Linked DNA regions of Homo sapiens: all the other regions are linked to region 2. The links come from fine-mapping of genetic effects on gene expression. A gene starts in region 2. Each other region holds a variant in brackets. All regions are shown on one strand. Distances are between the middles of the regions.

Region 1 (10,630 bases), 24 kb before region 2:
TTTGTATTTTTAGTAGAGATGGAGTTTCGCCCTGTTGGGCAGGCTGGTCTCAAACTCCCGAACTCAGGTGATCTGCCTGCCTCAGCCTCTGAAAGTGGTGGGATTACAGGTGTGAACCACCATGCCCGGCCAGGGAAAAACATCTTTTTGTAGGTGTTGACACTGCAGCTTCTAAGTTAGTTGAGAGGTTGGAACCCCCGCCTCCTTCCTGTGGTTGGAAGGAATAGGGAACTAGACTCTAACATTTTTTTAGCTGGGAGCCAGATTTAGCCTCTTTATACTTTTGTTTTTATTTTTTTTTCTTGTTCCCTTGGTTCTCCAAAGAAGCCCTCTTCTGGCTTCTTTGCCTTGTCTTCCTCTTTTCTCCATGTTCTTTCTGTCTCCTTTTCTTGAGATAGATACCTGGTAGTACTTCCTTTCTCTCTTCGGGGACTTACTCCCTTATGGATGGTGCCTTAGAACATTTGAGGGCCAAGCTTTAGATAAAATCCCAAATAAGAGAAAGAATGTATTGGAAGCTGCACTGTTTTCTGAGTCATTTGTCAGGATAAAAGAGAAACTGCTATTTAATTCTTTTTTTTTTTTTTTTTTTTTTTGAGATGGAGTCTCACTCTTGTTGCTCAGGCAGGAGTGCAATGGTGTGTTCTTGGCTCACTGCAACCTCCACGCCCGGGGTTCAAACGATTCTCCTGCCTCAGCCCCCGAAGTAGCTGGGATTATAGGTGTGCACCACCATGCCCCGCTAACTTTTGTATTTTTAGTAGAGATGGGGTTTTACCATGTTGGGCAGGCTGGTCTCGAACTCCTGACCTCAAGTGATCCGCCCGCCTGGCCTCCCAAAGTGCTGGGATTACAGGCATGAGCCACCGTGCCCAGCCTGCTATTTAATTCTTAAATGAAAGTTAAGCCTGGGTGTGGTGGCTCATGCCTTTAATCCCAGCACTTTGGGAGGCTGAGGCAGGAGGATCACTTGAGGTCAGTTGTTTCAGGCCAGGCAGCAACGTAGCAAGATCCTGTCTCTACAAAAAATAAAAATAAAAAAATTATCTGAGTGTGATGGAATGCACCTCTAATCCTAGCTACTCAGGAAGCTGAGGCAAGGGGATCACTTGAGTGCAGGAATTCATGGCCGAAATGAGCTGTCATCACCAGTGCACTCCAGCTTGGGTGACAGAGCAAGACCCTGTCTCAAAAAAATTTTAAAAAGCATCTCCAAAGATTTTCAGTTTATTTCTCTTCTGTAGTACTTTAGGATGGAGCTGATGCATGCTGAAAAACTGAGGAAGGAGAAGGAAGAATTTGAAAAAGCCAGTATGGATGTGGTAAGGTTCTAATTATTTTATTCTCACTTGCTAACGATGTATAACATTTTGAGCCTGCTTAGGAGTAAGAGAAAATATTTGGAATATATTTTTCTTTTTTTTTCTTTTTTTTTGAGACGGAGTCTCGGTCTGTCACACAGGCTGGAGTGCAGTGGCACCATCTTGGCTCACTGCAACCTCTGCCTCCGGGTTCAAGCTTTAATGTTTAATGTTGTTACATTTTGAAACTTCCAGATGAGTTAGTGTTACTTATAAATGGACTTAGTTAGGAAAATGAAGCTTTATGCTATAAAAATAGATATTTGGACTAATTAATGTGGTTCTCAAAATTGTTACTTACAGAATAGCCAAATACTATTCTTTAACGCTGTATGATCTCATAAAGTGATATATTAATGGATTCAAGGAGCTTGAGAAAGGTTGTGAAATGTGTGGTTTCCTGGCCTTCTTTCTTTCCCTTTTTATATAATTTTTTATATGACAGAATAATTAAAAGATTTAGAATGTTAGAGCTGAGAAGAAACTTTGCTATTGTCTGTTATTGTGGTTTCCAGCTTAGAACTTTTTTCTCAGACGGAGTGTTGCTCCTTGTCGCCCAGGCTGGAGTGCACTGGCACGATCTTGGCTCACTGCAACCTCCGCCTCCCGGGTTCAAGTGATTCTCCTGCCACAGCCTCCGAAGTAGCTGGGATTACAGGTGCCCGCCACCACTCCCGGCTAATTTTTGTATTTCTAGTAGAGATGGGGTTTTGCCATGTTGGCCAGGCTGGTCATGAACTCCTGATCTCAAGTGATCCGCCTGCCTCGGCTTCCCAAAGTGCTAGGATTATAGGCATGAGTCACCACGCCAGGCCAGGACTTTTTTATTCAAATAAAATGTTACAGAGAAGCGCAAACAAGACATGTAAAATCTGACCTGTTTTGGTCCAAATGGAGAGTGAGGCCTTAAGCCATGTGATCTTGCCACCACTCTTGGAGCCTCAGAGAACACAGTTGGAAGGTCAGTGATCTTGTTCAAGCTGCACACTTTACAAGTGAGGGAACTGGCCCGGAGAGAGAGACATGATTTACCAGTGGTCATATGGCACAGGTAGTCTAGGATTGTTAATTTTCGTCCTAGTGCTTTTCCTCCTTGTACTACCTGTTAAGTTACGTTTGATATAACACTCTTTAGGAGAATCCTGATTATTCTGAAGAAATCCTTAAGGGCGAGTTGGCATGGATCATCTACAAAAATTCTGTAAGCATAATTAAAGGTAGGTATCTTTTGAACATTATTTTTGGTAGGAAAGTGAAACATTCTTTTCTTAATGAAGATCTTTAGCTAGTTTTGAAATTTTCCATTAGAATGTGTATAAAACTCTGTAGGAATAGTGTCCTGTTTCTTTCAGAAAATACTTATTTTTCCTAGGCTATAATTGAACATTTCAGTAACTTATTTATTTTTTGAGATGGAGTCTTGATCTGTTGCCCAGGCTGGAGTGCATTGGCGTGATCTCGGCTCACCACAACCTCTGCTTCCTGGGTTCAAGTGATTCTCCTGCCTCAGCCTCCCAAGTAGCTGGGACTATAGGTGTGTGCCACCCTGCCCAGCTAATTTTTGTATTTTTAGTAGAGACGTAGTTTCACTATGTTGGCTAGGCTGGTCTCGTACTCCTGACCTTGTGACCTGCCCGCCTTGGCCTCCCAAAGTGTTGGGATTACAGGCGTGAGCCACCATGCCTGGCATAAGTCTCTTTTTAAAATTTATATTCTACTCCCATTTTTTTCCCTTAAATTTTAATAGGTTTGGGCCGGGTATGGTGGCTCATGCCTGTAATCCCAGCACTTTGGGAGGCCAAGGCAGGTGGATCACCTGAGGTCAGGAGTTTGCGACCAGCCTGGCCCACATGGTGAAACCCCATTTCTACTAAAAATACAAAAATTAGCTGGGTGTGGTGGTGGGCGCCTGTAATCCCAGCTACTTGGGAGGCCGAGGCAGGAGAATTGCTTGAACCCGGGAGGTGGAGGTTGCAGTGAGCTGAGAGCGCCTGGGCAACAGAGCGAGACTTCATCTCAAAAAAATAAAAATGTCAATAGGTTTTTGGGGAACAGGTTTAGTGGTGATGTCTGAGATTTTGGTGCACCCATCAACGAGCAGTGTATACTGTACCCAGCGTGTACTCATTTATCCTTCCATGTTTTTTTTTTGAGACAGGGTCTTACTCTGTCACCCACGCAGGAGTGCAGTGGTACAATTATGGCTCACTGTAGCCTCGACTTCATGGGCTCAGGTGATTCTCCCATTTCAGCCTCCTGAGTAGCTGGGCATGGACCTCTATGCCTGGCTAGTTTTTGTACTTGTAGTAGAGATGAGGTTTCACCATGTTGTCCGGGCTAGTCTTGAACTCCTGAGCTCAAGTGATCCTCCTGCCTTGGCCTCCCAAAGTGATGGCATAACTGGTGTGAGCCATTGCACCAATCCTCAGTAAGTTCTCATGGAGTAATTAAATCGTGGGGAGTTGAAAATTAGTTCTTTTTTTATGAATACTCCAAAGATTAACAATAGCTTTGCTTGAGTAGGGGGACACTGGGGTGAGGGGACTATGGGATGACTTTTCTTCTATTTTATTCTATTTCTCATTTCAAAAAACAAGAAGATTAACTCCAGTACATGAAAAGAATGCTACTTTTAAAGTAAAGTGATTCTTATTGGCAATAAACTTCCCCTCCCCTGCTTTTTAAATTTAGGTGCAGAATTTCACGTGTCACTGCTTTCGATTGCACAGCTATTTGACTTTGCCAAAGATCTACAAAAAGAGATTTATGATGAGTAAGTAAAGTTAGTAGAAAGGTGAATATATCTATTTCTGATCTTGAGATTAAGGGTTTGAGGTTGGATATTTAGTAGAAGAGAAAGAAGATACCACACTAAATCCCTGGAATAAAAGCTAATATTGGCCGGGTGCAGTGGCTCACACCTGTAATCCCAGCACTTTGGGAGACTGAGGTGGGTGGATCACCAGAGGTCAGGAGTTTGAGACCAGCTTGACCAACATGGTGAAACCCCGTCTCTACTAAAAATACAAAATTAGTTGGGCGTGGTAGTGCATGCCTGTAATCCCAGCTACTTGGGAGGCTGAGCCAGGAGACTCGCTTGAACCTGGGAGGCGGAGGTTGCAGTGAGCCAAGATCCCACAATTGCACTCCAGCCTGGGTGACAAGCAAAACTCCATCTCAAAAAAAAAAAAAAATTAATATCATATTACGTTAAAAAAAAATTTCCTGGCCCAGTGTAGTAGCTCACACTTTGGGATCCCAGTACTTTGGGAGGCCAAGGCAGGTGGATCCCTTGAGCTCAGGGGTTTGAGACCACCCTAGGCAACACGGTGAAACCCTGTCTCTACAAAAAATAAGCTAGGTGTGGTGGTGCATGCCTGTGGTCCTACCTACTCTGGAGGCTGAGGTGGGAAGATCACCTGAGTCTGGGAGGTTGAGGCTGGAGTGAACTGTGATCCTGCCACTCCACTCCTGTCTGGGTCACAGAGTGAGACCGTGTCTCAGAAAAAAAGTATCTTCCTGATTGAGTTCTTTGATTCACTTACTGGGGGAAATAGTTTATTCAATAAAAAAAAAAAATCTAGCCAGGCACGGTGGCTTAAGCCTGTAATCCCGGCACTTTGGGAGGCCGAGATGCATGGATCACCTGAGGTCGAGAGTTTGAGACCAGCCTGACCAACATGGAGAAACCACGTTTCTACTAAAAATACAAAATTAGTCGGGCGTGGTGGCGCATACCTGTAATCCCAGCTACTCGGGAGGCTGAGGCAGGAGAATCACTTGAAGCCGGGAGGTGGAGGTTGCAGTGAGCCAAGATTGTGCCATTGCACTCCAGCCTGGGAAACAAGAGCAAAATTCCATCTCAAAAAAAAAAAAAAAATCTAAAGCTTATATAAAATTCTAAATTCTATTTTCCTGGCATTTATCCATAAAATGAGAGTTATACTCATATGTTTATAGTTGAGTGCTGGTAATTTTATTCTTTTTATTTCTTTATTATATTTTTATTTATTTATGTTTTTAATTATAGAGATGAGGTCTCACTATGTTGCCCAGGTTGATCTTGAATTCCTGAGCTCAAGTGATCCTCCTGCCTTAGCCTCCCAAAGTGCAAGGATTACAGGTGTGAGCCATTACACCTGGCTGGTAATTTTATTCTTTAATGTCTGATTATATGGTTTAACAATTATTTGTAAGCTTCGGCAACATGGCGAGACCTGTTTTTACAAAAAATAACAATAAAATTAGTTGGGTATGGTGACATGTGCCTGTAGTCCCAGCTACTTGCGGGGCTGAGGTGGGAGGATCCCTTGAGCCTGTGAGGTTGAGGCTGCCGTGAGCTGTTATTGCATCACTGCACCCCAGCCTGGGTGACAGAGTGAGACCCTGTCTCAAAAAAAGAAAAAAAAAATATTTTTAGCCTACCTTGTGGGTACTTCCGTTTTTTGGTAACACCTCTTCCTTTGACAGGAGGGGAA[A/G]TGGAACTTGAATCAATCTGTTGTTTGGATATCTTCAGGGTTTTGAGAGAGGAGTAGGTTGTGCTTTTTCTCTATTATTTAGAAAATGAAGAACCCTGGGCTGGGTGTGGTGGCTTACGCCTGTAATCTCAGCACTTCGGGAGGCCGAGGTGGGCGGATCACTTGAGGTCAAGAGATTGAGATCATCCTGGCCAACATGGTGAAACCCCGTCTCTACTAAAAATAGAAAAATCAGCTTGGTGTGATGGCATGCACCTGTAATCCCAGCTACTCAGGAGGCTGAGGCAGGAGAATCGCTTGAACCTGGAAGGTGGAGGTTGCAGTGAGCTGAGATCGTCCCACTGCACTCCATCCTGGTGACAGAGAAGACTCTGTCTCCAAAAAAAAAAAACAGATGCAGTGGCTCATGCCTGTAATCCCAGCACTTGGGAAGGCCGAGGCGGGCGGATCACCTGAGGTCAGGAGTTTGAGACCAGTCTGGCCAACATGGTGAAACCCCGCCTCTACTAAAAATACAAAAATTAGCTGGGTGTGGTGTCACATGCCTGTAATCCCAGGTACTCCGGAGGCTGAGGCAGGAGAATCGCTTGAACCCAGGAGGCGGAGGTTATAGTGAGTTGAGATCGTGCCACTGCACTTCAGCTTGGGCAACAAGAGAGAAACTCTGTCTTAAAACACACACACAAACACACACACACACACAAACGAAAATGAAGAGCTCAGCTATAATAAAGTTCTTTAGGCTGGGCACAGGGGCTGTAATCCCAACACTTTGGGATGGACTATTGCTTGAGCACCCAGGAGTTGGAGACCATCCTGGGCAACATGGCAAAACTCTGTACAATAAAACTACCAAAATTAGCTGGGTATGGTGGCATGCACTTGTAGTACCAGCTACATGGGAGGCTGAGGTGGGAGGATCACCTGAGCCTGGGAGGTGGAGGCTGCAGTGAGCCATGATGGCACCACTGCACTCCAGCCTGGGTGACAGACCCTATCTCAAAAACAAAAAAAAGTTCTTCAGGTCTCTTGGAGTCTTGTGTTGTCACAGATAACTGCTGATTTGACTTTGAGAGCTAACTTGAAAGTTAACATTTGTGAATGATACCTGAAATATTCTGAAACTCAATAAATGTGGGACAGCTCTGGCCAGGTGCAGTGGCTCACACTGTAATCCCACCCAGCACTTTGGGAGCCCAAGGCAGGAGGATCACTTGAGGTCAAGAGTTTGAGACCAGTCTGGCCAACATGGTGAAAACTCATCTCTCCCAAAGAAATACAAAAATTAGCTGGGCGTGGTGGTATGCGTCTGTAATTCCAGCTACTTGGAAGGCTGAGGCAGGAGAATTGCTTGAATCCAGGAGATGGGGGTTGCAGCGAACTGAGATTGTGCCACTGCACTCCAGCCTTGGTGGCAATGAGATTCTGGCTCAAAAAAAAAAAAAAAAAAAGTGAAAAAGTGGGACAATTCTGATCCATTGACAAAATTTCTACAGTTAGTGAACATATTCTGGAGAGCCTGTTGGGAAATATATTTTTTTTTTTTTTGAGACAGAGTCTCGCTCTGTCGCCCATGCTGGAGTGATGCGATCTCGACTCACTGCAACTTCTGCCTCCTGGGTTCAAGCAATTCTCCTGTCTCAGCCTCTCTAGTAGCTGGGACTACAGTCACATGCCATCATGCCTGGCTTATTTTTGTATTTTTAGTAGAGATGGGGTTTCACCATATTGGTCAGGCTGGTCTCGAACTCCCGACCTCAGGTGATCCACCCACCTCAGACTCCCAAAGTGCTGGTCTCCCAGTGGCGTGAGCCACCGGGCCCGGCCTGGGAAATAGTTTTTATGGTACTGCAGTTGTTACAGGGATGTCCTGTGTAGATTTTTTAAGCACAGGTAACTGTTTCTCTGATATTCTGAGTCAGTTTCTTGTTGTGGGATTGATAACAGTAAATTGTATTTTTCAGCCTTCAGGCTCTACACACAGATGATCCTCTCACTTGGGATTATGTGGCAAGGCGAGAATTAGAGATTGAGTCACAGACAGAAGAGCAGCCTACAACGAAACAAGCCAAAGCAGTGGAGGTCGGCCGGAAGGAGGAGAGGTGCTGTGCTGTGTATGAAGAGGCAGTGAAGACTCTGCCAACAGGTGAACTTCACCAAACCATGGTGTGATATAGAAGGAATAGTATCCCTGATTGTGAAACTTAAGCTCCTGTTCCCATTGCCAAAATCAATATTGGGGATGTCTCTGTAACATAGTTTACGATGAGCCTGGCCTTTTTTTTTTTTTTTTATTGGGAGGCAGAGTCTTGTTCTGTCACCCTGGCTGGAGTTCAGTGGCTCGATTTCGGCTCACTGCAACCTCCACCTCCCGGGTTCAAGCAATTCTCCTGCCTCAGCCTCCCAAATAGCTGGGACTACGGGTGCCCGCCACCATGCCCAGCTAATTTTTTTGTATTTTAGTAGAGACGGGGTTTCACTGTGTTGCCCAGACTGGTCTCGAACTCCTGAGCTCAGGCGATCTACTTGCCTTGGTCTCCCAAAGTGCTAGGGTTACAGGATTACAGGCGTGAGCCACCGTGCCTGGGTTTTTTTTGTTTTTTGTTTTTTTTTGAGACAGAGTCTCACTCTGTTGCCCAGGCTGGAGTGCAATGGTGTGATCTCGGCTCACTGCAGCCTCCACCTCCCAGGTTCAAGCGATTGTCCTGCCTCATCCTCCCGAGTAGCTGGGATTACAGGCGTGTGCCACGATGCCTGGCTAATTTTTGTATTTTTAGTACAGACGGAGTTTCACCATGTTGGCCAGGCTGGTCTTGAACTCCTGACCTCAGGTGGTTTGCTCACTTTGGCCTCCTAAAGTGCTGGGATTACACGCATGAGCCACCGCATTTGGCCGTGCCTGGCTTTCTAACTTGGTCTTGGCTTTCTAACTTTTATGACCTTCCTCCATAGTAGTGGTATTTATGTTCATCTATTTTGGGGGAAGCTTAGGAAATAATTTCTAAGATTCTTCAATTATTATTTCTTAATTATCTATGTTTTTTTTTGAGACAGGATCCTGCTGTGTCACCCAGGCTGGAGTGCAGTGGCGCAATTTCAGCTCACTCCAACCTCTGCCTCCTGGGTTGAAGCAATCCTCCCGCCTCAACCCCCTGAGTAGCTGGGTCTACAGGCGCATGCCTCCACGCCAGGCCAATTTTAATGTATTTTTTGTAGAGATGGAGTTTTGCCATGTTGCCCAGGCTGGTCTTGAACTGCTAGAATCAAGTGATCTGCATGCCTCGGCCTCCCAACTTGCTAGGATTACCGACATCCTTAATTATCTTTTTGAGACAGAGTCTCACGCTGTTGCCCAGGCTGGAGTACAGTGACACGATCTCGGGTTACTACAACCTCTTCCTCCCAGGTTTAAGCAATTCTCCTGCCTCAGCCTCCCGAGTAGCTGGGATTACAGGTGCATGCCACCATGCCCCATGGATTTTTGTATTTTTAGTAGAGATGAGGTTTCACCACGTTGGCCAGGCTGGTCTTGAACTCCTGACTTCAGGTGATCAGCCTGCCTCAGCCTCCCAAAGTGATGGGATTACAGATGTGAACCACTGCCTCGCCCTTAATTATCTTTGGAAAGTGATTTAATTTTTATTTTGTAATAATGTAGAATAAAGGCAGAGGGGATATATAACCTGGATAAGGCTTTCAATTTTTATATTTAAGCTGTTACTCAGTTGTTTTCCCCCAATATTTGAGGTGTTTGATTGGCTGTAGTCAGCATAACACTTCTTAAAATCAGGCTGATTTAAACTCTTCTTCAGAGGAGAGTTTTCCCCTTGAAGTAAAGGTGTAGGATGACTGTTTTTTTCCTTATCTTTTAATAACTTTGATGTGATGAATGTTGAACTAAGTGATCTGATCAACACAATCTTTCTGACTTTTCCAGAGGCCATGTGGAAGTGTTACATCACCTTTTGCTTGGAAAGATTTACTAAGAAGTCAAATAGTGGGTTCCTTAGAGGGAAGGTGAGGTTGTTACATGGTTACAGTGGTTGACTAGATAGTGACTGCCTTCTGAAAGAACAGAAGCACAGATCTTTTGGTGTCTGGCACAGTTTCTGAGAACTTTTATGTTTAGCCACTCTCTCTCTCCTTGTGGGTGACGTGACATTCTAAAGGTCTGAGTCTGGTTTGCCGCCAGGTTAGGAGGGGCTCTCGTGTAACTGGGCTCTGTTCGGTGCAGCTGCCCATTGCATCTATTCATAAGTGAAACCACCATGCAGGAGCAAGTCAGCTTCTTTGAATTTTAAGAAATGCGCAAAACTGCTTTTGTTCATGTCAGAGGCCAGAGGCCCCTGCTGGGATCTTTGTAATGAACTGAGGGATTTTTCTGTTTTCAGAGGTTGGAAAGAACCATGACTGTATTCAGGAAGGCACATGAACTGAAGCTTCTGTCAGAATGCCAATACAAGCAGTTGGTAAGAACATAGAGAAAATATTCTGTGCCAGTTACAAATACCTTATTCCAGTTGTTTTGTGCCAGAGTCATGTTTTAAATATATATAGTCTTAAGATGAAGGCCACTTGGGAGTTCGGTATGTGAAGTGTGTTTATATGTGTTTCCCAGTATTTGGCCTATGCAAAAAATGAAATCTGTACTAGCAAAGGGAGGAGTATTATACAGTGAAAAGCACTTAGAACAAGAGTCATGATTTGGGTTTATTTTGTTTGTCCACCCATTCCTTTTTTTTTTTTTTTTTTGAGACGGAGTTTCACTCTGTTGCCCAGGCTGGAGCACAG
Region 2 (10,630 bases):
GTTTCCTTCCTCTGCCTCCTCACTTGCTTTGTGTATACTATCATTTCAGGATCATAAGTTCAGGGGTCCATGGGTCGTCTGTTAAGAACCCTAGATTTCTCAGGAGCCTGAGACCAGCCTGGGCAACATATTTAGATCCCCATCTCTACAAACAATAAAAAAAAAAAAGTAACTGGGTATGGTGGTGCATGCTTGTGGTCCCAGCTACACAGCAGGCTGAGGTGCGAGGATTGTTTGGGCCCCAGGATGTTGAGGCTGCAATGACTGTGATGCCACCATTGTACTCCAGCCTGGGCAATACAATGAGATCCTGTCTCAAAAACAAAAACCAAAAACACCCCCTCTGGATTAGAGAAAGATTTGCATGGTTTTGTTTTCTTAAAAAAAATGTATTTAGAGTTACATGAAAGGGGTAAACGTGAGATGCTAATTGGCGTCTGTTGTTGACTATCTCCACATTGCCCTCATTTGTAGGACTTGTACAACATACTTCTGGGTATAGGTATGTCATGTAAAATCTGTGGACTTTGTGAACTCATAAACATTGATTTGTTTATTTTTATTTTGTTTTGAGACAGAGTCTCACTCTGTCACCCAGGCTGGAGTGCAGTGGCGCAATCTTGCCTCACTGCAATCTCTGCCTCCCAGATTCAAGCGATTCTCGTGCCTCAGCCTCCCAAGTAGCTGGGAGTACAGGCACGCGTGCCACCATGCTCGGCTAATTTTTGTATTTTCAGTCGAGATGGAGTTTCGCCATGCTGGCTAGGCTGGTCTTGAACTCTTGACCTCAGGTGATCCGCCCGCCTTGGCCTCCCAAAGTGCCGGGATTACAGGTGTGAACCACTGTGCCTAGCCAAAAAGTTTAGTATTTTTGAGTTCATTGAATAAAATAGACTTTTATGATTGATGTGAAGGTTTTCTACTGGGAAAAAAAACAAAAAACAAAAAAACAAAACTGATGAGGCACAGTGGCTCACGCCTGTAATCCCAGCACTTTGGAAGGCCAAGGTAGAAGGATTGCTTGAGCCCAGGAGTTCAAGACTAGCCTGGGCAATATAGTGAAACCCTGTTTCTACAAAAAATAAAAAAATTAGCCTAATATGGTGGTGTGCCTGTGTTCCCAGCTGCCCTGGAGGCTGAGGCAGGAGGGTCACTTGAACTCAGGAGGTTGAGACTGTAGTAAGCCATGTTCCCGCTACTACACTCTAGCCGGGGCAACACAGTGAGACCCTGTCTCAAAAAAGAAAAAAACACACAAAAACAAACCAAAACCTGCCACTATACTTTAAAGAAGCTAAGAGAGGTATTGTTAAACAAAGCGTCCTAGGGAAGTAACAATGAGAAGTTAAGTTTCTTAGAAATCTTGAGTTGAATTGATATTTAATAAGGTTACCTAATAACACTCTGTCAGTTATCTAATTGTATGTTTTTTTTTTAAAAGATCTTTGGATGGATTATATGAAAGAAGAATTGAACCACCCCCTTGGTAGACCTGAGAACTGTGGACAGATCTACTGGCGAGCGATGAAAATGTTGCAGGGAGAGTCAGCAGAGGCATTTGTAGCTAAACATGCTATGCATCAGACTGGCCATTTATGAAGATGAAGAATACAGTCAGCTTTGTGAAATAGTATTGCAAGCAAGCCCCGTGGGCAAATTTGTATTGAGTCCATCTGTAATTTGCTCAGTGATGGCAGACAAGATGGCTGTCTGGTTTTGAGACACACTTTAATTTTATGTTAACTTGTTAAATCTTTTTAAAAATTAAAAAATTTTTATGATTGAGACTGGGTCTTGCTCTGTTGCCCTGGCTGGTCTTGAACTCCTGGACTCAAGTGACCTTCTCACCTCAGACTCCTGAGTAGCTGGGATTATAGGTGCATGACACTGCTCAGTTTGATGTGCTAATCTGATTCCAGTAAAGAGAATTGCTGATTTAATGTTGAGGCCCGATCTTCCACAGGTCCTAAATGTTTCCCAAAATACATGGATAGCATACGACTGGGTTTTTTTAAAATTATCCCAGGTCAAGCATGAGTATCTCTAATCTCGACCTAAGAGCCAGTTAAAATGAAGGAGAAAGTGGCCAGGCATGGTGACTCAACGCCTGTAATCCCAGCACTTTGGGAAGGCTGAGGCAGGCGGATCACCTGAGGTCAGGAGTTTGAGACTAGCCTGGCCAACATGGTGAAACCCCGTCTCTACTAAAAATACAAAAATTAGCCAGGTGTGGTGGTGGGTGCCTGTAATCCCAGCTGCTTGGGAGGCTGAGGCAGGAGAATTGCTTGAACCTGGGAGACGGAGGTTGCAGTGAGCCGAGATCATGCCATTGCTACTCCATCCTGGGTAAGAAGAGCGAAACTCCTTCTCAAGGAAAAAAAAAAAGGAGAAAGTACAGTTTTGTTGGTTTATTCTCATTATAAAAGATACGTGGTATGCATTTGTTCTGGAAAATATGGAGGAAATAGAATAGTGTGGTAAAAAAAAGCATCCTGTCACTGGGAGAAGCTTTCAGTGTAGCTTATTGTTACGTTTCACTTAGTATTGTTTTTCTGTGTCATTAAATAGCCTTAAAAACATTTAATGAATTCGTAACATTACATTGTAAAAATGAGCCATAATATATTTTACTAATCCTCTGGTTAGACTGTCTTTTTTTTTTTGAGATGGAGCCTTGCTCTGTCATCCAGGCTGGAGTGCAGTGGCTCCATCTCGGCTCACTGCAACCTCCACCTCCCGGGTTCAAGTGGTTCTGGCTCAGCCTCCCGAGCAGCTGGGTGGGATTACAGGCACCCGCCACCGCGCCCAGCCAATTTTTGTATTTTTAGTAGTGCGGGGGTTTCATCATATTGGCCAGGCTGGTTGCGAACTCCTGACCTCATGATCCACCCGCCTTGGCCTCCCAAAGTGTTGGGATTACAGGCGTGAACCACTAAGCCTGGCCTGGACTGTCATTTCTAATTTTTTTAAAAATTAGATAAATGCTGTTGATGAAGATTCTTGTCAATCTTTGTTCACATCCCTGGCCATTTCCTTAGGAGATTGACATCCGACAGTGGAATTACTGGATCAAAGGATACTGCTTTTAGAGAATACTGATATGTATTGCTGGTTTGCTCCTTCTTTCAAGCAATACATGAAAGTGTCAGTACCCTTACCTGTACTGGTGTAATTATATCTTTTATTTTTACCATTTTATAGGTGAAATGTGATATGTCATTGTTTTACCATACTTTGATATTAGTGAAGTTAGTGTATTTTATGTTTCTCATCTTTTTACATCCTTAGACTATTTAAAAATTTTTTTTCTTACTAATTTATGAGTTAATTTTTTTTTTTAAATTGGACAAGTTCTTGCTTTGTCACCTAGGCTAGAGTGCAGTGGTGTGATCATGGCTCACTACAGCCTTAACTTCTGGGCTCAAGAGATCCTCCCACCTCAGCCTCTTGAGTAGCTGGGACTGCAGGTGCACACCACCATGCCTGGTTAATTTAAATTTTTTTTTGTAGAGACTGGTCTTGCTATGTTGCCAGGGCTGGTCTCTTAAACAGTTGGGCTCAAACAATCCTCCTACCTCAACCTCCCAAAGTGCTGGTATTATAGGCATGAGCCATTGTGCCTGGCCAGAGTTTTTAAAAACATATTCAGAATATTAATATCTTGTTTCTCATTTGTTGCAAATAATTTTACCCCCAGCCTTGTTTGTGGTGATTTTTTTTTTTTGAGACAGAGTCTTGCTCTGTGGTCCAGGCTGGAGTGCAGTGGTGTGGTCTTACTGCAACCTCTGCCTCCTAGGTTCAAACAGTTCTCCCTGCCAAAGCCTCCCAAGTAGCTGGGATTATAGGCACCTTTTGTGGCGATTTTTGATGCCCAGAGGTATTTTGTGTGTGTATGTGTGATGTCTGTTTTTAAAATGCTTTGGAAGCTCTTCCTGGTGCTGAGAACAACTCTTTTTCCCCAAGCAGTTAATTTTGCCAACACTATTTGGGCAGTTATGTTTCTCTCTGCTGATTTGTGATGTTACCTTTATTATATATTAAATTTCTATGAGTATTAGAGTCTACTTTAGAACATTTTTATTTTAAGCTTTTGTACTGTTTTCTTTTTCTTTCTGGTTTTTTTTTTTTTTAGACCAAGTCTCACTCTGTCGCCCAGGCTGGAGTGCTGTGGGGCAATCTCTGCTCACTGCACCCTCCACCTCCCGGGCTCAAGTGATTCTCCTGCCTCAGCCTCCCGAGTAGCTGGGATTATGGGTGTGTGCCACCACGCCTGGCTAATTTTTGTATTTTTAGTAGAGATGGGGTTTCACCATGTTGGCCAGGATAGCCTTGAACTGACCTCAAGTGATCTGCCTGCCTCGGCCTCCCAAAGTGCTGGAATTACAGGAGTGAGCCACCGCGGCCAGCCCCTGTTTTCTTGTCATTTGTTTTAAAATAAGAAAAAAATTCCTCTTTTTCCTGTCCCTTAAGTCCTGGGATGTTTAACATTCTTAATCTTATTTGGCACTTTAATTTTACGAAAGAGATATGTAGATTAGGGAGCAAAGAGGATAGTGGTAGTCTCCTTAACACAAGGCTATAAGGGTGGTCACCTGGGGTCATCACATCCCTGTATCTGATTCTCAATATTGCAGGTTATGAAAACACATCTAGCTAGTACACCTAGAGTTGCACTGTTAGAAACAGTAGCTCCAAGGCACATGTAGCAATTTAAATTTATTAGAATTATTCAATTTATTCACATTGGCCACATTTCAAGTGCTCAGTAGGTATATGGTTACTATATTGGACAGTACAGATAGTAGAACTTTCATTTCCACTTCCACCATTAAAGAACGTTCTATTGGACATTGCTGACCTAGAGGCAGTTAGCCTTGGGGATACTGACTCCTGTGTAGGAACATCTACATATAGAACAAAAATAATATCGAATATTGTGTGTCAGTTTTATGCTAAATTTTTTCAAATGCCTTTTGTGTTGTACAAACAACACAGTCTTTGAGGGGGATGAAGGAAGAGGGTCTCATGTCCTGATGTTGACGTGATTAGCACACCTTGAGCTGGTTTGTTATTAGAGGTTAGGCACTGTGGGGAAGGCAGGGAAGGCTGTCTTTCCAGTTGGGCTGTTCCCAGCTCAGGCCCTGCCTATCCCCAGAAGCCACCTTTCGAGGCAAAATGGGAAATAATTAGGTTGTCGGTATCAGGCGTTGAGCATGGAAATACAGGAATCCCGAATGTTCAGGATTATTATGAGTAAGCGTCGTGGCCTGTATTCTGTGTCCACTGCATATTGCAGTTTGTGTCTTAATCATCTATCTTGGTTTCTAATGGATTAACTTCAAAGACGATCATTAGCTCAAGGTGGAGGTCACTGGGTTGCTCATGTGTCTTACCCACGCGGGGTTTTGAAGCTGGAGCACACCCCGAGTGGCCGAGTAGGGTACGCTTGGCGTTTCACACGCAGCTAGTCGTGCAGCCTTAGGATATGCACCGAGAGGAGTTTCCAAAATCCGTCTCCGAGATTGTTTCAGATTTCGCGCTGGGAGGGAGGGGCGGGCTCCGCGAGGCCGCGCGCCCCGCCCCCTGCGCCGCCCCGCCCCCGCTTGCTCGTGACACCCCCGCGCCCCGCCCTCTTGGCCGGTACCCACCCCCTCCCCAGGCTGATTGGCGCTTCTGCGGCGGATCCTCGGGCGGGCAGCCGGGCCGGCGCGTCACGTGGCCCACGGCGTCCAGGGCGACCAGCCGCGGGCCGCAGGGCATGGACCTTCAGGCCGCCGGGGCCCAGGCGCAGGGGGCCGCGGAGCCGTCTCGGGGCCCGCCGCTGCCTAGCGCGCGGGGGGCGCCCCCCAGCCCGGAGGTGAGCGCCGCGTGGGGGCCAGGAGCAACAGCCAGCCGCAGCCTGGGGCGGGAAGTCGCGGGGCCGGGCTGGGCGGGGGCCGCGGGGCCGGGGAAGCGCCTCTGGCCGGCCTCGGGCCGCCCCGCGACACGGAGCGCTGTTTGGGCTCGCGCTCGAGCTGAAAACGGCCAGGCCGCGGGGCCGCGGGGCTGCGGGGCGGGGAAAGCCGAGGGCGTGGGTGGGCGCTCTGGGTCAGCAGAGACGGCTGTCCGCCCGCTGGGCGCCGCTGCGGATTTGGTAAATGGGAGGTGACGCTGGTGACCGAGAGCCGGGGCCCGCTGCCAGGAGCCTGGGCGAGGGCCAGGTGAGGGCGGCGAGGAGAGGGACTTGACTTTACAGACCTGTGGACCTCTGTCCGTTGGTGGGGATGCCAGCTAACCCTGAGCCCCAGATGTCACATGCGCGCTCCCCCTTCTCCTTACTGAAACCAGAAAGGCCCTGTTTGACGCAGGGTTTCCAGAAACTTGTTTTCATGTAAGCTAGACAGCTCCTGGTTTTCCCGAGAACGTTACAGACCGTTATTACAGTTCTTACCTGTCCTTGTTTACAGTCTGTACCGGCTAGGTGCTGAGCGGCTTGAAGGTAGGAACCCTCTGTTAGGGCTGTTTGCACAGCCTAGCATAGTGCCTGGCACAGGAGATAGACATACCGACTGGATGAATGATGCCTCAAAGATGGTACTTAGCCAAAGTAAGATATGAAAAATGCAGCGACACTTACAAAGAAAATTACTTTGGAGTGCAGAATAGAATGGGACTAATTTTGTCAGGGCATAGCAGGAAAGGATCAAGGTGAGAGGCTGGTGGTGTCTGCAGAGGCGTGGAGATGAGAAAGTGCAGGGCACATGGCCTGGAGTTGGGTCTCAGAGCATGCAGAGAACTATGCTCAACAGGTTGATGGGAGTGGGAGAAGAGGGGACGTGCGAATGCCATGGCTAATTTTGTGCTCTCTCAGTGGAGGGCTGTTGAAGGTTTTGAGCAGAGTAGTGATTAATTCTGTAAGGCTGGGCCAGATGGCTGGATGGGAAGGTGGTTAGGAGGCCGTGGCAGTGGTTTAGGTGAGAGGTCTGACTTCTCCTTGGGCGGCAGTGACCAGAGGTTGTCACTAACTACAGGGAGTGGAACTGAATTATTAAACCCAGACATGACTAGATAATGAATGCTGATTGGAGCAGGTGCCGAGTACAGTTTAGATGTAGCAGAAAAGATGAATTTAAATTCAAGAAATGTTACATTCTTGCCACATGCCAGGTGTTTTCATAAATGGTGTCTAATCATAAGTCCCCTGCAGGGTCAGAACAGTCACCCCTAATTTCTGGAGAAGAAAACTCAGGCACAGTAATTGAAGTGATGTGTTCAAGGTCACACTCTGAATGGATGGCAGAGCTGGGATCAAAATCAGGTCTTTTATGCAGGCAGGGAACATTTCGTGATTCATTAGAAAGAGGTCTTGGAGGTCATAGGGTTTCAGGAACTTCTGAGTGATGGGAGCAGAGAAGCATTTGGTTGGCTGTGCGGGAAGATTTTCAGTTAGATTAGAAATACTGCCTTCAGTGCTCAGCATTGCAGAGGAATTATAAAGCTTCCCCCACCTCAGTGTGTTGGTGAGGAAACAGAGAATTTGATAGAGTTGTTTACTAGCTATAAAGTTGTTAAGTAACTGAAAAGGTAAAACGTGTACCTGGGGGTGGCAACCGCAGGGAACAGCTACCAACCTATGGCTGAAGGAACAAAGAGATGAAGTTGATTAAAATTTAAAAGCTTAGGGAAAAGGCTCTGCAGAGCTGAAATTCCAACCTTTAAGGAGAAGGCACTGCCCCAGCTGATGGTAGGGGGTCTCTGAGCTTGGAGGAGAGTCCTGAGACCCAGACCTCTAAAGAGAAGGTGCAGTGATAAGACTGGCTCTGCAAGAGTTCGCAGAACTGTATACTGGATTCTGTGGCCACTATAGGAAGGCATTCCTGCTGCCACGGTGAAGTGTCATGAGGTGATGCCTACATGAATAGGAAGGAACAAGGCCCATCTCCCTCCAGCCTTGCTCAGTTTAACAGGGCAAAGTAGAAATGTGGGTGGCAGAGTCCCAGCCCTGCATCACCAAGGGGAGTATGGAAGAGTGGGTGGGGTTGAGATGCAATAGCTGAATACTGGGCATACCCCAGATACCCAAGTCCTTGGTAATCATTTCTTCTTCCTGCAGGCTGGCTTTGCTACAGCTGACCACTCCAGTCAGGAGAGAGAGACTGAGAAGGCTATGGATCGACTAGGCAAGTAGATGGCAGAGACGGAAGTTGGGGAGACCAAGGATGTGAGGAGAGGAATAGTCCCTCTGTCTCATTTACCTTCTCTTTTAGCCAGTCCTCTCTGCTGCTTAGTGGCCTTCTCTGCCCAGTTGAACAGTAACCTCCTTTGGAAGCCTTGCTTGGAGCTTCCTTAAGGGAAGTCCTGAACTTTTCTTATGTTCAAATCCATCCTTCTACCGAGAGAAACAGCTTGAAACGGTGAAAATAGTACAGCAGTCTCACCTTATTCCTAGGGGATACATTCTAAGACCCCCCCGCCCCAATGGATGCCTGAAACTGCTTTTTTTTCCTCCTATATATACTATTTCTGATATGGTTTAACTTATAAATTATGCATATGTGATTAATAACAATAGTAATATAGAACAATTATGCCAGTATACTGAAAGTTACGTGAATGTGTTCTCTCTCAAAATATCTTTTTTTTTTGAAACGGAGTCTCGCTGTGTCACCAGGCTGGAGTACAGTGGCACGATGTCAGCTCACCGCAACCTCCGCTTCCCAGGTTAAAGCAATTCTCCTGCCTCAGCCTCCCGAGTAGCTGGAACTACAGGCACGCGCCACCACACCCAGCTAACTTTTGTATTTTTAGTAGCTATGGGGTTTTACTATGTTGGCCAGGCTGGTCTCGAACTCCTGATCTCAAGTGATCTGCCCACCTAGGCCTCCCAAAGTGCTGGGATTACTGTGAGCCCACGCTCCCAAAGTGCTGGGATTACAAAGGCATGAGCCACTGTGCCCAGCCCCCTGCCGTTTTTTTTTTTTTTTGAGAGGGAGTTTTGCTCTTGTTGCCCAGGCTGGAGTGCAATGGCACAATCTTGGCTCACTGCAACCTCTGCCTCCTGGATTCAAGCATTCTCCTACCTCAGCCTCCCAAGTAGCTGGATTACAGGCATATGCCACCATGCCCAGCTAATTTTTGTATTTTTAGTAGAGATGGGGTTTCACCATGTTAGCCAGGCTGGTCTCGAACTCCTGACCTCACCTGATCCATCTGCCTCAGCCTCTCAGAGTGCTGGGATTACAGGTGTGAGCTACCACGCTTGGCCCCTTTTTTTCTTTTTCTTTTTTTTTTTTGAGATGGAGTCTCACTCTGTCACCCAGGCTGGAGTGCAGTGTCGCAATCTTGGCTCACTGCAACCTCTGTCTCCCGGGTTCAAGTGATTCTCGTGCCTCAGCCTCCTGAGTAGCTGGGATTACAGGCGTGCACCATATCGCCTGGCTAATTTTTGTATTTATTTATTTATTTATTTATTTATTTTTTGAGACGGAGTCTCGCTCTGTCTCCCAGGCAGTGGCACTATCTCGGCTCACTGCAAACTCTGCCCCCTGGGTTCACACCATTCTCCTGCCTCAGCCTCCCGAGTAGCTGGGACCACAGGCACCCGCCACCACGCCTGGCTAATTTTTTGTGTTTTTAGTAGAGATAGGATTTTACCTTGTTAGGATGGTCTCGATCTCCTGACCTCGTGATCTGCCCTCCTTGGCCACCCAAAGTGCTGGGATTACAGGCGTGAGCCACTGCTCCCGGCCTAATTTTTGTATTTTTAGTGGAGAGGGGCTTTCACCATGTTGGCCAGGCTGGTCTCAAACTCCTGACCTCAGGTGATCCGCCCACCTCGGCCTCCCAAAGTGCTGGGATTACAGGCATGAGCCACCGTGCCTGGCCTTTTTTTTTCTTTTAACTCTCACAACAACCCTATCTTCATTTTACAGATGTGGAAGTTGAGGCACAGAACAGTTAAATAAAAACAATTTAAAAATTGTGGTAAAAGATGCATAACCTAAATTTACCATGTAACCATTTTAACGCATATAATTCAGTAGCCTTTTAGCACAATGGCAGTGTTGTGCAACCATCACCACTACCTAGTTCCAGAATCTTTTCATCACCCTAAAAGGAAACCCTGTGCTCACCAAGTAGTCATTCTCCATTCCTTCCTTCTCTGAGCTCTTGGCAACCACTAATTTGCTTTCTGTCTCTGTGGGTTTATCTGTTCTGGATAGGCAAATGTGAGTTGCCTGTAAAGGGAATCATAACAATATGTGGCCTTTTGTGTCTGGCTTCTTCCACTTAGCGTATTTTCAAGGTGCATCCATGCCGTAGCATGTATCAGCACTGCATTCCTTTTTATGGCTGAATAATTCCATCATATGCATATACCACATTTTGTTTTTCCATTCATCCATTGATGGACATTTGATGTTGTGTCTACCTTTTGGTGATTGTAAATAGTGCTGCTGTGAGTATCCTTGTTTTATTTGAACAGCTGTTTTCAGTTCTTTTGGGTATATGTTTAGGACTGGGATTGCTGGGTCATATGGTAATTCTATATTTATGTTATGGAACTAGTTAAGTAAATTTCAGCTCAATCACACTTTTTTTTTTTTTTTTTTTTTTTTTTTTGGAGACAGGGTCTCACTCTGTGCAATGG
Region 3 (10,630 bases), 390 kb before region 2:
GCATCTGCAGACAGAGGGCATGGGTTCAAGTCCCAGTCCTTCTGGTTAGCTAGGTCTGGGACAGGTTCCTTAAACTCCTTGAGTCTTAGTTCTCTTATAATGGGCATGATAGTAATATCTACACCTCTTGGTTATGACAATTAAATGGTATGTGAAAAGGGCTTTGGAAACAGCCCTATAAATGTGCTATTTTTTTTCCTTCTTCTTCTTCTTTTTTTTTTTTGAGATGGAGTTTCACTCTTATTGCCTAGGCTGGAGTGCAATGGTGCGATCTAGGCTCATCGCAACCTCCGCCTCCCAGGTTCAAGCGATTCTCCTGCCTCAGCCTCCTGAGTAGCTGGAATTACAGACATGCGCCACCACACCTGGCTAATTTTGTATTTTTAGTAGAGACGGGGGTTTCTCCATGTCAGTCAGGCTGGTCTCGAACTCCCGACCTCAGGTGATCCGCTTGCCTCAGCCTCCCAAAGTGCTAGGATTACAGGCGTGAGCCACCGCACCCAGTCTATTTTTTTCCTTCTTAATACACTCTCCCACCCACCCCCCTTGGACCAACAGGCTCTCATTTATACACTCAACAAACACTTGAGACATTTTAAGAAAAGAAAACTTCAGACCAATATCCCTCATGAACATAGGTTCAGACATTCTTAAAATGTTGGCAAGTCACCTCTAACATATATGAATAGGATAATACATCGTGACCAAATGGGGTTAATCTCAGCACAGCAAGTTGGTTTAACATTTGTAAATCAATGTTGGCTGGGCGTGGTGGTTCATGCCTGTAATCCTAGCACTTTGGGAGGCTGAGGCAGGGAGACTGCTTGAGCTCAGGAATTTGAGACCAGCCTGGGCAACATTATGAGACCTTATAATGAGATTTTGTTTCTAAAATGTCAGCTAGGCGTTGTGGCACACGCCCATAGTACCAGTTACTTGGGAGATTGAGGTGGGAGGATTGCTTTAGCCTGGGTGATCGAGGCTGCAGTGAGCCGAGATCAAGGCTGCAGTGAGCCATGATTGCACCACTGCACTCCAGCCTGGGAGGCAGGGATCCCATCTAAAACAAAACAGAACCAAAAACTATGTTATTTACCATATTAACAGACTGAAGAAGGAAAACTATACGATAATCTCAATAGATGCAGAAAATCATCTGACAAAATTCAACATTTATTTATGACAGAAACTCTGAGGTGGTTGCTGTCCCAGGAACAGCCTGAAGGTGGGCAAAGGGGGAAGGAGGGAGACCAGTAGAAGCCTAGTCCATCAATCCCAGCTAGAGAAAGATTAGGGAGATAATTGGATCATGACGGTGGTGAGAGGTGGCCACTCTCTGATTATCTTGAAGGTAGGCCCAACAGGATTTGCTAATAGAATGACTGTAGGGAGTGAGGGAAAGAAAGTATCCAATAAGGATGACTCGGATATTTTTGGACTGATCAACTGAAAAGCTAAAGTTGTGGTTAATAATGATGGGGAAGATGGTGGGCATAGCAGATTTTGGTGGAATAGATCAAAAGTTTAATTTTGGACATGTTAAGTTTGAGATATACATTCAGCATCCAAGGTAAGGTGTCTAATAGGCAGAGGATATATAAATCTAAAGATAAAGAGAGAGACCATATTTGGGCTCTAAATTTGGGAGGCTTCAGCATATAGTTGGTGTTTAAATTTAGGAGAGAAATAAAATTACAAAAAATCTGAGAAAAGACAGAAAAAAGGTGTCAAGGACTCAGCCCTGTGTCTCTTCACCATTAAGATATCTGATAGAGGAAGACAATCCAGCAAAGAAGCCCGGAAAATAGTGGCCAGTGAGGCAGAAAGAAAACCAGGAGATTGTGGAGGCCAGAAGCAGACAGTGTTCCGAGGAGAAAGGAAATGTGTCAGATGCTGTTGCTGAGGGTAAGATAATGGCTGAGATCAGATGCTGTTGCTGAGGGTAAGACGATGGCTGAGATCAGATGCTCTTGCTGAGTGGTAAGACGATGGCTGAGAACTGATTGTTGAATTTGGCAATGTGGAGGACATTGGAGACCTTTACAAGAGCAGTTTCGGTATGGTAGGGGAGGTAACAAGCTGGGAGGAGTGGCTCAAGACAGAATAGGAACATCAATCTCTTCAAAAATTCTTCCAAAAAATAGAAAAGGGGAGAACACTTCCCAACTCATTCTGTGAGGCCAGTATTACCATGAAAAGTGTTACTTGGGGCCGGGCACGGTGGCTCACACCTGTAATCCCAGCATCTTGGGAGGCCGAGGCAGGTGGATCACGAGGTCAGGAGATGGAGACCATCCTGGCTAACACAGTGAAACGCTGTCTCTACTAAAAATACGAAAAATTAGCCGGGTGTGGTGGCAGGCGCCTGTAGTCCCAGCTACTCAGGAGGCTGAGGCAGGAGAATGGTGTGAACCAGGGAGGTGGAGCTTGCAGTGAGCCAAGATCACGCCACTGCACTCCAGCCTGGGAGATAGAGTGAGACTCCATCTCAGAAAAAAAAAGAAAAGTGTTACTTGGATAACAAAACTAGACAGAGACATCACAAGAAAACTACACCGGCCGGGCGCGGTGGCTCACGCCTGTAATCCCAGCACTTTGGGAGGCCGAGGCGGGCGGATCACGAGGTCAGGAGATCGAGACCATCCTGGCTAACACGGTGAAACCCCGTCTCTACTAAAAATACAAAAAATTAGCCGGGCGCAGTGGCGGGCGCCTGTAGTCCCAGCTACTTGGGAGGCTGAGGCAGGAGAATGGCGTGAACCCGGAAGGCGGAGCTTGCAGTGAGCGGAGATCGCGCCACAGCACTCCCGCCTGGGCGACAGAACGAGACTCCGTCTCAAAAAAAAAAAAAAAAAAAAAAAGAAAACTACACAATGATACACCTTATGCTATAGATGCAAACATCCTCAACAAAATACAAGCAAACTGAATCTAACAATATATAAAAAGGAGTATATACCATGACCAAATGGGATTTTCCCAGAAATGCAAGATTGGTTCATCATACAAAAATCAATGTAATACACACACTGTATGAATGGAATAAAGGACAAAAAACAAATGATCATTTCAGTAAATGAAAAAAAGCACTTGATAAAATCCAATGTTGCTTCATTATAAATAAAACACTCAACAAACTAGGAAGAGAATTGGTTTAATCTGATAAAAGACATCTATGAAAGACCCACAGCTCAGCCTGGGCAACATGGTGAAACCCTGTCTACTAAAAAATACAAACATTAGCCGGAGGCTGCGTGCGGTGGCTCACCCCTATAATCCCAGCACTTTGGGAGGCCGAGGCGGGCGGATCGCTTGAGGTCAGGAGTTCAAGACCAGCCTGGCCAACATAGCAAAACCCTGTCTCTACTAAAAATACAAAAATTAGCTGGGCATGGTGGCACGTGCCTGTAATCCCAGCTATTTGGGAGGCTGAGACAAGAGAATTGCTTGAACCCGGGAGGGGGAGGTTGCAGTGAGCCGAGATTGCACCACTGTACTGTAGCCTGGATGACACAGCAAGACTTCGTCTCCGAAAAGAAAAAAAAAAAAAAAAACAGAATTAGCCGGGCGTGGTGGTGTGTGCCTGTGATCCCAGACACTTGGGGGCTGGGAGGCTTGCTTGAGCCCAGGAGGAGGAGGTTGCAGTAAACGAAGATCACACCACTGCACTCCAGGCTGGATGACAGAGCAAGACCCTGTCTCAAAAAAAAAAGAGAGAGAGAGAAAAGCCACAGCTAACCGACAACTTACTACTGAAAAGGCTGAATGTTTTCCCCCTAAGATCAAGAACAGAACAAGGATGTCTGCTCTTGTCGTTTGTACTTAACATTGTACTGGGGGGTCTAGGCCGGGCAATTAAAAAAGAAAAATAAATAAAAGACATATACTTTGGAAAGGAAGGAATAAATCTATCTCTAATTGCAGATGACATGATCTTATGTATAGAAAATCCGAGGCCTGGTGTGGTGGCTCACGCCTAATCCCAGCACTTTGGGAGACCAAGGAGGGAGGATCGCTTGAGCCCAGGAGTTGGAGATCAGCCTGGGCAACATGGCAAGACTGTGTTTCCGCCAAAAAAAAAAAAACAAAAAAAAAAAAAAAAAAGGAAAAGAAAGAAAGACTAGCCGGGCACAGTGGTTCACACCTGTAATCCTGGCACTTTGGGAGGCTGAGGCGGGCTGATCACCTGAGGTCGGGAGTTCAAGACCAGCCTGACCAACATGGAGAAACCCTGTCTCTACTAAAAATACAAAAAAACTTAGCCAGGCATGGTGGCACATGCCTGTAATCCCAGCTACTTGGGAGGCTGAGGCAGGAGAATCGCTTGAACCTGGGAGGTGGAGGTTGCGATGAGCCGAGATTGCACCATTGCACTCCAGCCTGGGTAACAAGAGCAAAACTGCAAAAAAGAAAGAAAGAAAGAAAGAATAAAAAAGCTGGGTGTGGTGGCCTGTGCCTGTGGTCCCAGTTACTGGGGAGGCTGAACTGGAAGGATCGTGTGAGCCTGGGAGGCAGAGGTTGCAGTGAGCCGAGATCATGCCACTGTACTGCAGCCTGGGCAACAGAGT[G/A]AAACCCTGTCATAAAAAAAGAAAAGAAAATTGAAAACATATGCCCATACAAAAACTTGTATATGAATGTTTGTAGCAGCATTATTGATAATAATGAAAAGGCGGAAACAACCCAAAATATCCATAATTTTTTTTTTTTTGAGACAGAGTCTTGTTCTGTTGCCCAGGTGATCTCGGCTCACTGCAACCTCCACCTCCTGGGTCCAAGTGATTCTCATGCCTCAGCTTCCCCAGTAGCTAGAATCACAAGCATGCACCACCACACCTGGCTAATTTTGTATTTTTAGTAGAGACAGGGTTTTGCCATGTTGGCCAGGCTGGTCTCGAACTCCAGCCCCAAGTGATCCGCCTGCCTTGGCCTCCCAAAGTGCTGGGATTACAGGCGTGAGTCACCGTGCGGCCCAAATATCCATAAATTGATGAACGATAAACAAAATGTGATATTTCCATACAATGAAACATTACTCATCCATGAAAAGGAATGGAATGCTGATACATGCTGATACAAGGTTCATACAGATGAACCTTGAAAACGTTATGCAATCTGAAAGGAGCTAGTCACAAAGATCCACATATTGTATGATTCCATTGATATAAAATATTTAGAAGAGGCAAATCCGTAGAGACAGAAAGTAGATTAGTGATTACCAGGGGTTCGGAGAAAGGAGGATTGGGGAGTGACTGCTAATGGGTACAGAGTTTCTTTCGGGAGTGATGAAATGAGATAGTGGTGACGGTTGCACAAGTTTGTGACTGTACTAAAAACCACTGAATTGTACATGCTAAAAAGGTGAATTTTATGGAGTGTGAGCTATATCTCAGGTTCTGAAAAGAGACAGAATAGGAGACACTGAGGAAACTCTTTCAAGCAAGCTATAAAGGGAACAGAGAAATGCGGACGAAGAGATTTTTTTTTTCAGATGGGAGAAGTAATGTTTGTTTGTTTGTTTGTTAATAAATCCAGAGGAACACAAATCAAAGATCCAAGAAAGGCAGGGGGAATTGCTGGAGGATGCAGACGACAGAGGCCAGACTCTAATGCGTAAGTGAAGGAGCTGCCTGTGGACAGTTTCTCTGTAGTCACAGAAGGGAAAATATAGCAGATATGTGCAAGTCCAGGTAGGTGGGCATGCACGGGATGAGAACTGGACGAGATTCTCTTCCAAGTGCTCTCCTTCAGAGAGCTTGGTCTGTTTTCCTTCAACATCTTGCTTATAGCCTCCTGTCTCAAAACATGCCTGCCAAGAAAGTACACTTGCTTCCAAGAAAACAAGCAAGAAAGCAAGCAAACCAATCCCCTAAAATCATCTACCCTGATAGTTTTATTCTTTTCTTTTCCTCAAGACAGGGTCTTGCTCTGTCACCCAGGCACAATCATAGCTCACTGCTGGCCCCAATAGCTTTAAAAAGTGAATTCCAACCAGGTGCACAATGGCTTATGCCTGTAATCCCAGCACTTTGGGAGGCTGAGGCAGGAGGACTGCTTTAACTCAGGAATTTGAGCCTGGGCAATCTAGCAAGACCTCACCTCTTCTAAAAATTTTTTAAAATTCGTCAGGTGTGGTGGCATGTGCCTGTAGTCCCAGCTTCTTGGGAGGCTGAGGTGGGAGGAGTGCTTGAGCCTGAGAGGGCGAGGCTGCAGTGAACTATGATCGTGTCACTGTACTCCCTGCTGGGCAAGAGTGAAACCCCACCTCAAAAAAAAAAAAATTCCATCTCAAACTGGTCATTCTAAGTTCTTTCAACAATGTTATTTATTTCTATGTTATTTTAATCTATTTTTGAAATTAAATTTTATTATCAAAGAGTAATACTTGCTCAAATAAAATCCAAAAGGTACAGAAAACAAATCTCTCTCCCACCTGTCCCCAGCCCTCCTCCTTGAGGCCAGTTTATTGTATGTCCTCTGAGAGGTAGTCTATGCATAACTGCATATTTATCCCTCCTCCCTTTTTTATTAATTAATTAATTAATTTATTTATTTTTGAGACAGAGTCTCGCTCTGTTGCCCAGGCCGGAGTGCAGTGTTGCGATCTTGGCTCACCGCAAGCTCCACCTCCCGGGTTCAGGCCATTCTCCTGCCTCAGCCTCCCAAGTAGCTGGGACTACAGGTGCCCGCCACCACATCTGGCTAATTTTTTGTGTTTCTTTAGTAGAGACGGGGTTTCACTGTGTGAGTCAGGATGGTCTCAATCTCCTGACCTTGTGATCCACCCGCCTTGGCCTCCCAAAGTGCTGGGATTACAGGCGTGAGCCACCGCGCCTGGCTCCCTCCTCCCTTTTTAAAACTGCAAATAGTATCCAGACTTACCTAGCGTTCTGCATCATGCTGTTGTCACTGAAGATACATCTTGGAGATTGCTTCATATCAGTACATACAGCACTGACACATTAGTTTTCATAACTGCCATGACATCATAGTCCTAAAACATGTTCACAGAGTCCTTGATACTTCTCCTTTCAAGAGGTGGCTCGATTCCCCTCCCCAAACATGTGTGCTGGACTTAGTGACATGCTTCTATAGAACAGAATATGGCAGAAGCAATGATGTGTGCCCTCTGAGACTAGGTCAAACAAGACAGTGCAGCTTCCTCCTGTTTTCTATGTCTTGGGTCACTTGCTCCAGGGTCAGCCAACTGCCATGTCATTCAAGCAGCGCTGTGAAGAGAGGCCCATGTGGTGAGGAGCTGAGGCCTCCTGCCAATGGCTAATGTGCTATCTTGGAAAGGGATCTCCCAGCCCCAGTCAAGCCTTCAGGTGACTGCAGCCCTGGTTGACAGTCTGAATACAATCTAATTAGTGACCTGGAGCCAGAATCACCCAGCTAAATTGCTCCCAAATTCCTGACCCACAGAGACTGTGAGATAACATGTTTATTTTAAGCTGCCAAGTTTTGGAATAATTTGTCATGCAGCTATATATATGATATATGATATATATGATATATGATATATCATATATCATATATGATATATCATATATTATATATTATATATATAATTTTTATATAATATATATCATAATATTATATATATTATATATATAAAATATATTTTTTTGAGATAGGGTCTTGCTGTGTCACTCAGGCTAGAGAGCAGTGGCACAATCTCAACTCACTGCAACCTCTGCTTCCTCAGCTCATGAGATCCTCTCACCTCAGCCCCCTGAGTAGCTGGGACTACAGGCGTGCAGTCCCATACCCGGCTAATTTTTTAACTTTTTGTAGAGATGGATAGAGACCATGTTGCTCAGGCTGGTCTCGAACTCCTGGGCTCAAGTGATCCACCCGCTTTGGCCTCCCAAAGTGCTGGGATTCCAGGTGTGAGCCACCACACCCCGCCAGCAATAGATAATTAAGATGCATGTTTAAGATAAATGTGTCCTATCTCCTCCATCATCCCATTTCAATAGGAAAAGCCCTTGGCCAGCCATAAAGCGTGTCATGAACATGAGGTACAACGCTTCCTATCCCATTTTCTCTCCCCAGCTTTCTGATGGCAACCAGCGCATACCTCTGAGTTTGTTCAAACCTGTTGCTCTCCAGTAACACAGTGTGGTCTGTGGGTCTTTGAGCCAAGTCTGTGCTGGCCCATCTCATATGCTCCCAGTTGATGACTTCCCCCAGAGATGTTGGTGTTTTCATCAGTACTTCCACCAGCAATTCTCTGGGTCGGTGTCAGAACCATGTAATAATAAGTTTTTGAAATGTTCAGGAAGTGAAGTCAGCTAAGAAACAAATTTGGCTTTATGAGCCCTTTCCCATCTCCACTGATCTGGGCAGGCCTCCCTGCAGTGTGGAGAGGACCTGTCAACTATATCCTGAGAATAAAGATTTCTTTTTTTAAAAAAAAATCTCATCTTTTCCCTGGAGTGGAAAGGCAGCTAATAGCATTCAGATATTTTGAGATGAAACTGTTACCATGGGAATGTTTCCATATCTCTCCCTTAATAATGATGGGTAGAAACAATGAACAGTACAGCTCTTAGAATTCTAGAGATAAAGGAAATAAGGGGGGAAAAATGAGAGCTGGAAAAACAGATCCCCCTAAAGGACTGCTTATCTCACTCAGAACTCTGCTCTGGTGCTCTCTAGGTGAATGTGGGGAGTTTGTAGGTCAGCGGTTTTTCTCCAAGGGTCAGGGTTCCCATATAGGAAGGAGATCAGTGATCCTGAGGTGGGTGGGGTGTGATTCTTCAGTAATTGCTGGTAAGGGGGTGAAGCTGGTCTGTCCTTCTGAGGCTCTGTGTGCAGGGTAGGGAGTGGAGGAGGAAAACTGAAGAGCTAACAAATTCAGATGCTTCTAAATACTTCTCCGTCTTTGTCCTGGCAAGAGGTCAAAGCACTTGAGGAACTCCTCCTCCCTAGGGCCTCAGACTGTACCCTGAAAGTAGAAGCATGCTGGCACACATTTTCATCTTGTAGTTCCAGAATTTCCTGTGCTGGACTGTCCTCTACAAGGGCTCAGGGATAATTTCTTAACCAGGAAGGCATCTCCTCCTCCATCCACTGTTTGAAGCACTGTAGGGGTCCCCTCAGGTCATTGTCAGCTGAGCTCCTGTTTCTCTAGGGCTTTGAGAAATCAAAGGACAAATGACTTGTTAATGAGCAAAATAATTTATCTCCTGTGACAGGCATTTTACCTTGTCTGCCATAGCCTCATACTCTCTCTCGGAAGGATTTATTTGCCTTTGTTGTTTTTACTTTTTGAGAAGGGTCATCCAAATAGAGCCATCCTGCCTATAAAATGAATGGGAATCCAACCCATTAGCTGAGAATTTAAGAACTCGTGTTGAATGTGTCAGGATAGGCAGATTGGGTATCCCCTTATTGTAAGCACCCCTTAAATCTCTCAAAGATGAAAGAAATGGATACCATCCCACCAAGCACCCCTGCACACTGTGAACTCACCTAAGGTGAGAACTGCCTGCTCACCGAAATCTTTATCTGTCAATTCCCCGCCTCCACCCCTGACCTAAGTTTGCTTGGAATGTCAGCATCTAGGGATTTCTTTTTGTTCTTGAGATCTTTAGTTAAAATACAACATAAGCAGCACTTGAACTGTTTCTTGGTGGTAGCAGCTGAAAGCTAATCTTTATAGGAATGTAGCTTAAGGAGCAGAAACCGTATTGGGTTGGGTGAACAACTAGAGAACTAAGTGTCTTCTTTCTCTGAAGCATCTACTGAAGCAATACATATGGTTGTCCCTGTCTCTCACACCCTCCGGAACCCGCATTTTCTGTTCTAAAATTTGTGATCCACAAAGAGAAAAGCAGTTTAAACATTTGATCTAGCATAAATATAAGCTCAGCAGAGGGAGCGCGGCAAGAGGTTCTAAACATAGGTGGCTCCACAGCACAGAGAAACCAGCCAGGAGACACCCAGGCAAGCGTCCTTGGCTGACTTCCCAGGTCCCTTGGCTTTGGGCTTTCCATGGTCCTGACCACATAAGGAAGGCTCTCTCTGCCAGTGACAGGCATCTCCCAATTCTTTCTCGCTGACTGCTGCGCTAGTAGGTCCTCTTCATTTGGGCTTGGGAGGTCATTTTTGGCAAACAGTAACTCTCACTCCCAAAACGTGGATCCTAAAATGTGGAAGAATCCTGATGACAATGTAAGATGCTACAGCTGCACCTGGCTGGTGGCAGAGTTATAATCTGGTACATGTTTCAGCTGCCACTTACACATAACAGGTGAGCACAGCGTTCATGCTGCTTGAAATGAACACCTATTCTGTTCCAAGCACATTATTACACAGCATATTTTTTCAAATTCAGCTGTACTTTGACAGTTTTTATAGAAAGTATGTGTCTCAATTTTTACATACCAAACTGGAGGAAATTTATCCAGTGAAGTGATTACTGATCTCCAGCCCCAGAAGCGTGAGGCACACAGGTACCTGAATTCTTTCAGGCCAAATGAAACTAACTAAATATTCTTTATGTATGAATTGTTATGGGGCAAGGTGAACACCACCTCCTCCATAAAAGCTTTCTGGGAGCTCCTCAACAGCAGAAAATCTCCCCTCTGCTTGAATTCCCATTGCATTTGTTTTTTTTTTTTTT

Evidence for each region.
Region 1: its variant is fine-mapped to the expression of COPRS in whole blood (TOPMed, PIP above 0.99).
Region 3: its variant is fine-mapped to the expression of COPRS in whole blood (TOPMed, PIP 0.94).

Annotation. Positions count from the first base shown.
Region 1 is chr17:31,877,928-31,888,557 of GRCh38, reverse strand. UTP6 (UTP6 small subunit processome component) reads left to right here. Exons shown (of 19, transcript NM_018428.3): 8 at 1,245-1,322; 9 at 2,497-2,578; 10 at 4,053-4,134; 11 at 7,804-7,985; 12 at 9,777-9,856; 13 at 10,231-10,308. Among named protein-coding and RNA genes, the nearest start is that of UTP6, 18 kb to the left of the region's middle. The variant A/G (reference allele first, on the strand shown) is at 5,840.
Region 2 is chr17:31,854,328-31,864,957 of GRCh38, reverse strand. COPRS (coordinator of PRMT5 and differentiation stimulator) reads left to right here and starts at 5,714. Exons shown (of 4, transcript NM_018405.4): 1 at 5,714-5,857; 2 at 8,093-8,159. The coding sequence starts at 5,759. UTP6 (UTP6 small subunit processome component) reads left to right here. Exons shown (of 19, transcript NM_018428.3): 19 at 1,442-4,054. The coding sequence ends at 1,599. RefSeq lists a silencer at 5,564-5,993 and an enhancer at 6,053-6,727.
Region 3 is chr17:32,240,303-32,250,932 of GRCh38, reverse strand. LOC124903979 (a long non-coding RNA gene) reads right to left here and starts at 7,449. Exons shown (of 2, transcript XR_007065709.1): 1 at 6,880-7,449. RefSeq lists a silencer at 9,849-10,143. The variant G/A (reference allele first, on the strand shown) is at 4,569.